Linked DNA regions of Homo sapiens. The protein of the gene in region 1 interacts with the protein of each later gene in a biochemical or structural test. Each region holds a gene or a part of one and is shown in the gene's direction. Other genes may lie near its edges.

Region 1 (3,852 bases):
CTCCGTCTCTCTAAAAATACAAAAAATTAGGCGGGTGTGGCAGCGTGCGCCTGTAGTCCCAGCTACTCGGGAGGCTGAGGCAGGAGAATGGCGTGAACCCGGGAGGTGGAGCTTGCAGTGAGCCAAGATCGCGCCACTGCACTCCAGCCTGGGCGACAGAGCAAGACTCCGTCTCAAAAAAACAAACAAACAAAAAAGGAAGATATTGGCCAGGCGTGGTGGCTCATGCCTGTAATCCCAGCACTTTGGGAGGCTGAGGCGGGCGGAACACGAGGTCAGGAGATTGAGACCATCCTGGCCAACATGGTGAAACCCTGTCTCTACTAAAAATACAAAAATTAGCCAGGCCTGGTGGCGCGCACCTGTAGTCCCAGCTACTCGGGAGGCTGAGGCAGTAGAATCACTTGAACCCAGGAGGTGGAGGTTGCAGTGAGCTGAGATCGTGCCATTACACTCCAGCCTGGGTGACAGAGCGAGACTCTGTCTCAAAAAAAAAAAAAAAAAAAAAGGAAGCTATTTGAGCTAGCATCAAATAATTAGTGCACAGTACACATGGAAGAACTATCCTTTTAATCAAACGGGCATTTTTATTACTATTTGGCTTTGTTCTGGTCTTAACCTTTCCCTCAATTGTGAATCGCTAATGACAACTTTTATACAGATGTCATGATTTCCATGGTTTAAACAAATGTAAAATTAGTTTAAAATGCCAGAATGAAATGGATACTCTCACAAATTTGCTCATTGCTATACTAAAGTGCCTTGATAAAGAATTTTACAATAAAATCCTGTTAATAAGACTGCTGATTCAGAGATGACCATAATTCACACGTGATCGAGACTTAAAGCTTATTGTTTTACTTGTGAAAAAAGTTTAAGCAGAATGTTTAACTTTTAAAAACAAATAAATGATATTGAAAGCAACGGTTTACATTAACTTACGTGCTAATGTCTCTCATTCAGCTTTAGCAGGTCCTCAAGGACCTTTCTTAATACTTTTTTGGTTAACAAAAGTATAAATGGAAACTTGAAGAGAACCTAAGAAGAGAAATGAAAATGATTGAGGGAATATAGACCCCAAAACACACAAACACACACACACAAGCACGTTTAAGATAGGGGTTGAAAAGACATACTGAGGAGGAATTTGAACTTTATTTTTGTTTTCACCTTTGAGACAGGGTCTCACTATGTTGCCCAGGCTAGAGTGCAGTCATAGCTTGCTGCAGCCTCAAACTCCCAGGCTCACATGATCCTCCTGCCTCGGCGTCTCAAGTGGCTACAGGCACACACCACTATGCTGGCTATTTTTTTTTTCTTTTTTGTTTTTGTAGAGACAAGGGTCGCCCTTTGTTGACAGGGGTGGTTTTTGAACTCCTGGGCTCAAGGGGTCCTCCTGCCTTGGCCTCCCATTGTTGGGATTACAGGCGTGAGCCACCTTGCCAAGCCACGTTTATTTTTAAAAACAGGATAAATATATTCTTGTCCAGCCAATCCCAGAATCAAGTACAGTAGCTTGAAATAGATGAAATAATTTTAGAATGTATTGTTTTATTTATAGAGCTGATAGATAAATGAAACAGTATAAAGGGTAAATATTTGCTGTTTAACAGACAACCTCAAAACTTAGCTTAAAAAAAACAATTATTTTTCCCCTCAAATCTGATGGTTTTTCTGCTTCACTTGGTATTGGCTGAGGTGTGGGAAAGACCTTCACTTCTCCTCTATATGGGCCTTTCTCTACCTGGCTGCTTGGATTTCCTTAAAGTGTGGTGGCAAGGTTCTAAGAAGGGACATTCCAGGAGACAGGAGGTAGAGACTGCCAGTCTTCTAAATCCTAGATTTGGAAGTCCAAGAATGTCACTGTGGGTCAAAGCCAGTCAAGGCCAACTACAGAGGGAGGAGAAATAATGTCTACCTATTGATAGGAAGGGTGGCGTGCATAAACAAGGAAGGGGGAATTGCTGGGGGCCACCTTTTGAGACTTGCTACCGTAGGTGCTATGCTAGTTGGATGTTAAGGCTAAAAATAAAAATGGTATCGGCCAAGTTTGTGGGTCATAATGCTAGGAATGTTTAGGAGGCATCTCTTTTTTTGAGGTTAACTTCGGAAGGCACTAACATGATCTCCTGCGTGACTTCCCTTAATGATGTCACTGTTGACATAATACTGGGTGAATTAATGTGATTAAGTAAACTTGCTTACTTACTTCAGGAAACAGAGGTATCTAAACAGATTACATTTTAAAATAAATTGTCAGATGTTTCACTGTAATGGAATTTTCTTTACATCAGTGAAATTGATTACCAGGTAGTGGGATGAACATCTGAAACTAGTTCTTAGTTTAAGTTGTCTGAGTTTTTGTGTATACTTTACCTATTCCCAGTTTAAATTGGCTTTCAAACAGTTTGTTTTCTGGGTACTCTTATAGGTGTTGGGGTATGAAATTAGTGGTAATTCTTTTTGCCTATTTTCTTTTTTTTTGTCTGAGATACCCTGAGTCTCGCTCTGTTGCCCAGACTGGAGTGCAGTGGCACAATTTCGGTTCACTGCAACCTCCGCCTCCTGGGTTCAAATGATTCTCCTGCCTCAGCCTCCTAAGTAGCTGGAATTACAGGCGTGTACCACCTTGCCTGGCTAATTTTGTTGTATTTTTTTTTTTTTGAGATGGAGTTTTGGTCTTGTTGCCCAGGCTGGAGTGCAATGGTGCAAACTCAGTTCACTGCAACCTCTGCTTCTGAGGTTCAAGTGATTCTCCTTCCTCAGCCTCCCCTGTAGCTGGGATTACAGGCATGCACCACCACACCCAGCTAATTTTGTATTTTTGGTAGAGACAGGGCTTTTCCATGTTGGTCAGGCTGGTCTCGAACTCCCAACCTCAGGTGATCTGCCCGCCTTGGCCTCCCAAAGTGCTGAGATTACAGGCGTGAGCTGCCGTGTCCGGCCTCTTTTTGCTAATTTTCTAAATTTATGTTTATAGTAGATTTTCATAAATTATCAAAAGTGAATTATTAGATGTGGAGTAAAAATTCAACTTTGAGTAGTTTTAGAAATTATTTATTGCTAAATTAGAAAATAAACTTTCAAAAGAGATCTCTTTTTTTTAAAAAAACTTAATTGAGACAGGGTCTCACTCTGTCACCCAGGCTGGAGTACAGTGGTGCAACCTTGGCTCACTGCAGCCCCTACCTCCTGGGTTCAAGCAATTCTTGTGCCTCAGCCTCCCAGGTAGCTGGGAATACAGGCATGTGCCACCACGCCCAGCTAAATTTTGTGTTTTTAGTAGAGACAGGGTTTCACCGTGTTGCCCGGGCTGGTCTCGAACTCCTGACTTCAAGTGATCCGCCCACCTTGGCCTCCCAAAGTGCTGGGATTACAGGCGTGAGTCACTATGCCTGGCCTAGAGATGGGATCTGCTTTTTTTTTTTTTTTTTTTTTGAGATGGAGTCTTGCTCTGTCACCCAGGCTGGAGTGCAATGGCACGATCTCAACTCACTGCAACCTCCGCTTCCCAGGTTCAGGCAATTCTCCTGTCTCAGCCTCCTAAGTAGCTGGGATTACAGGCACCTGCCATCATCCCTGACTAATTTTTGTATTTTTGTAGACGGGGTTTCACCATGTTGGCCAGGCTATTCTTGAACTCCTGACCTCAGGTGATCCGACCGCCTCGGCCTCCCAAAGTGCTGGGATTATAGGCATTAGCTACCGCGTCTGGCCTCTAGAGATGGGATCTTGCTTGCTCTGTTGCCAGGTTGGCCTTGAACTCAGGCTAGGGTTAAGTGATCTTTGTGCCTCGGCCTCTCCAGTAGCTGGGACTACAGGTGCGTGCCACCACTCGCAGCCTAAAATACT
Region 2 (3,852 bases), on another chromosome or scaffold:
GAAAGAGCCTCCCAAGCCACCGAGGAACAAGGTAAGACTGCTAGAGATGGTTTTATCCTCTGTGGGAATCGATTTGACTGAATTTGCAGTGGGTTCAGATTCCTTCAGCAGAGACTTCCGGGCTGCTCCCAAACTCATTCTGCTCTGGCCTTGAAGGGGACTCTTGACTCGTGGCTTCCTTGAAGCTTGTGTGGAGTTAGCGAGGCCCTTGTGGCCAGGCAGCCTTGGAGTGGAGTGCCACTTCACTCTCCCAGGGATGCTCTGGTCCACTGGTGGAGAGAGCACCGAATGCAGAGTCAATCCTTTGAGTTGCTTGGTCAGAAGAGGGGGCCGCAGGGCTTCTGGTCAGTGGCTCATTGCCTGGCTGCGGGGGTCTTGGGGGCTGTGTACTGTAGCTGGCTTGTTTGCACTGCAGACTGAAAAATACACAAATACTTCACGCTTTTTGTACTCCCACAAGTGCCCTGTACACAGTGCAGCCCCTGGGGCTGGATTAGCAAACCAGGGATTCAGCAGGCAGGCAGACAAAATTGGATATTTGCCTAATAAACACCCTTCTTCCATTGTCCCCCACCCCTGCCCCGGGGGTACTCCACGGGAAAACTTCACTCCACAGATGCCAGCAGTTCCCTTTAAATGGGAGTAGGAGGTTGTCATGTGCACTTTGAAAGCTTGTGTGACCCCCTCACACCCAGCTGGCTTGTTAAAGCCTAGAATCGGAGTCCTACATCCTTGTGTACTCTTTGGGTAGGGCAGCTGGCCTTTTCCTGGGGAAAGTGTGTTTAGCCCAGCTTCCTTTCATCTGCATGGCTCTTGCGGCAGGGAGGTGGAGCAAACCAGCCTTGCTTCTTGGAGGCTGTGGGGAGGAGAAAGGGGTTCTACCTGGGCCAGAGCCTGTTTCCTAGTGGACAAGGGGCAGCCAGGCCAGGTGGACCTCGCTGTGGACAGCTGCAGCTGTTCCCGCTGGGCCAGGGCCCTTTGAAAAGGAACCCGGGGGAGCACTTCCCCCCTTTCTTCTTTTCACTAAGTGTCAGAGGCATGGACAAGTGAAACACGTGAAGAATGCCAAAGAGAGAAACAGTGTTTTCAGATTCCAGAAAATTCAGAGGCAGAATAGGTGATTGTACCAACAACCAGAATGTACAGTGATTTCAGTTGCTCCTGAAATTGCTCCTGCACTTCTAAAGAAATCGGGGAGGAAAAACTGCTCTCTAATTGTTTCCTCAGGCTTGTTTAACAGATTTGAGAAAGGGTCATCCGACATTGATGTTTGAGAGTGTCCTTTGAAAAAGAGTGGCACCTTCAACACTTTTCTGGTTTTCAAATAAACACACAACACCGGATTCAACATTAATCATTTTCTCTGAAATTAATTTGAGGGTTTGCTGTGGAATATCAAGAATTAAAAAAAAAATCATTGATTATTATTTTTAGGTTTAGAGGATGACAAAAGCATCCTTAACCCACAAAACTGTATTTAAAACCTGGGAAAATGCACAGATGATAACGGTATACTTTCTGTGCATTTAATATCTTATTTTCCCCCAATTCTTTCATCAGCACAGTAATTCTCAATAATCCTGTTTGTGTTGTTTCTGGTTTCTTAAAAAACATACACATGGGGGAAAGTAACTCATTTAAGATGTGACCAAAGAGTACTTATTAAACTGTTTTGGGGATTTGGGTTTAAATTGAATAATGTTTTGTGTGTGTGCTTGCACATGTGTGTTGTTTAAAAAAAAAAAAACAGGTTGCTGGGAAGTGTGTTTTAACTGTGAGTGCCGGGTTTCAGCTATTAGCATAAGAAAAAAAGTTTTAGTGCGTTTGCCATTGTCTTGAATGAAGAGTTCAGCAAAGGGAAGGAAAGCCGCAAAAGGGTGATGGTCCATTGAGATTCTTCTGCAGCCCCGAGCTCGTCATCTGCCTCTGAAATCTGTGATCGGATATCACTTTTATCTCGCTTTTCCATTCTCTGGCCTTTTTCACACGTTCACTTTTGTCAAGGTTTATTGATTATGTTTTCTTCTCTACAAATCTGTGGAAAATTTAATGAACCAAAAACAGCAGTGAAATAAAGGGGACTTTTTATTCATTAGCACGGGATTGGGATTGATTCCCTCTTTGGGCAGCCGAGGGCCCCAGGCCTCCTGCAGGCAGCTAGAGGGAGGAGGGAGGGTGGCCCGGCTGCAGGCTGAGGCGGGGACTCCACAGGCCTGTGGCCTCCAGGCTGAGCAGCACGGGCGCAGCCCTGCACTCCTGTCCCAAGTGAACTCTGAAAGCTTGTCCGCGATGGCTGTGCCGGTTGAGCCTGTATGCAACCACGCCGCAGCCCTTACCCGCCATGTCCTCCTGGGTCCTGGCTCAGTGGGCTTGGGGGAGGTGGGGCGGGGGGTGTTGTTTGTATTTCCCAGACTTACAAACCATTTGAGTGCTGGGCCTTCCCTGGGACACAGTTAAGTATCTCCCTTCCTCCAGACCCAGCCCAAACCTGTAATTAAGCAAAGCCCCTGATGTGATTACGCTTTGCTGACTCGGCTGGGTTTGGAGCCATTCCCTCTAGGAAACAGGGTGAACTCTTGCTCTTCCCAGAGGTTTCCTGGGCAGCTTGTGGTGCACCTCTATTGTACACATGTCCGCCTGTCCCCCTCCTTTGGCTCTCTTCCTCTCCCTTCAGCTATCCGTCCGTCCTTTCTGTCTTTTTCTTTCTCCTTCCCCTTTCTCTCTCTTCTGTCCTGCCCCCACCCCCTCTTCTCTCTGGGTCTCTCCTTTCTCTCCCTCTCCGTTCTCTCTCCCCTTCTCCTTTCTTCTCTTTCCCTCCGTTTCCCCCTCCTCCGTTTCCTCCGCCTTCTCTCTCCCTCTCTTTTCTGTCTTTTCTCATCTTTTCCCATCTTTCCCTCCCGTTCCCTCCGCCTCCTCCCCGCCCCCGCCGTCTGGACCTTCCTCTCCCTCCGCGCCGGCTTTTCCGCCACGCGGAGCGCTGGCTGGCGAGGCCGCGTGTCCGAGCGGCGCCGACCGTGCCGCGGCCGGGGGACATTCCGTGCCCCGAGCGCCCCGGGCCCGCGGCTGCGGCCCTCCCACCTGCGCGCCGGCCTGGTTTGCAGCTCCCAAACAATGGCCACATTGTCGCAGCCGCACACCGGCCGCCGCCGGCGAGTGGCGGGAGGCCGGACTCTGCTCGTGGCGAGTCGGGAAGAAAGCCAACGGGCCAGGTCCCCACAGCCGCGCCCGGAGCGCGCGAGCGGCTCCCACCCGGGAAGGGCGCGGGTTCCGAGGGGCGCCCCGGGTCTTCCTCGACCCCGTTTCCCATTGGCCTGCCCTCTTGCCCGCTTCCCCAGGAGGGGCTTCCAGTTGCCTTTACAGCTGGCGAAGTGAATGAGAGCACTCCACGGGAGCCGGGAAGAGAGAGGCCCCGTGACCAAACTTTTGGTGGCGTCTGAAACTTTTTCTGTAAGGCATCTGCAGACAGTAATCACTAAGGCCGCCTTCTGCCCTTGTCCACTCCCGGCGACAGGAAAGGAAGGGCGGTCCTCTCTTCCATTCGTCTTGACCTGTAGGGATTCGAAACCTCTTAGCGCTCAGAAAAAAGATCTTTGAATGCCTGATGTTAAAAGAGCGTCCCTGGGTCCAAGATAGCCCCTTCAGCAGACGCTTAGCAATGCTTCTTTGTGTGCTGGACAATGCAGTAAGTCAGCCAGACTTTTGAGCCACATTTATAAGGAACTGTAAGGGCCGCTCAAGTACACTTGTGCTAAGTTGAATTGATTGAAATTTAATGGCGGTTAGTGGCGATGAATGGTAATGATTTTCCAGCGTATCTTTGGCATACTTGACATTAATAACTGGAGTGTGTGT

What was found. The genes of interacting proteins can lie anywhere in the genome.
Region 2: the proteins of BTRC (region 1) and GLI2 form a complex in vitro, tested with the Homo sapiens proteins (one study listed by BioGRID).

What each region holds. Positions count from the first base shown.
Region 1 is NC_000010.11:101,356,954-101,360,805, forward strand, and holds part of BTRC (F-box/WD repeat-containing protein 1A), read left to right. Parts: intron 1-3,852. UniProt on the Homo sapiens protein: Substrate recognition component of a SCF (SKP1-CUL1-F-box protein) E3 ubiquitin-protein ligase complex which mediates the ubiquitination and subsequent proteasomal degradation of target proteins. Recognizes and binds to phosphorylated target proteins.
Region 2 is NC_000002.12:120,738,704-120,742,555, forward strand, and holds part of GLI2 (zinc finger protein GLI2), read left to right. Parts: intron 1-3,852. UniProt on the Homo sapiens protein: Functions as a transcription regulator in the hedgehog (Hh) pathway. Functions as a transcriptional activator. May also function as transcriptional repressor. Requires STK36 for full transcriptional activator activity.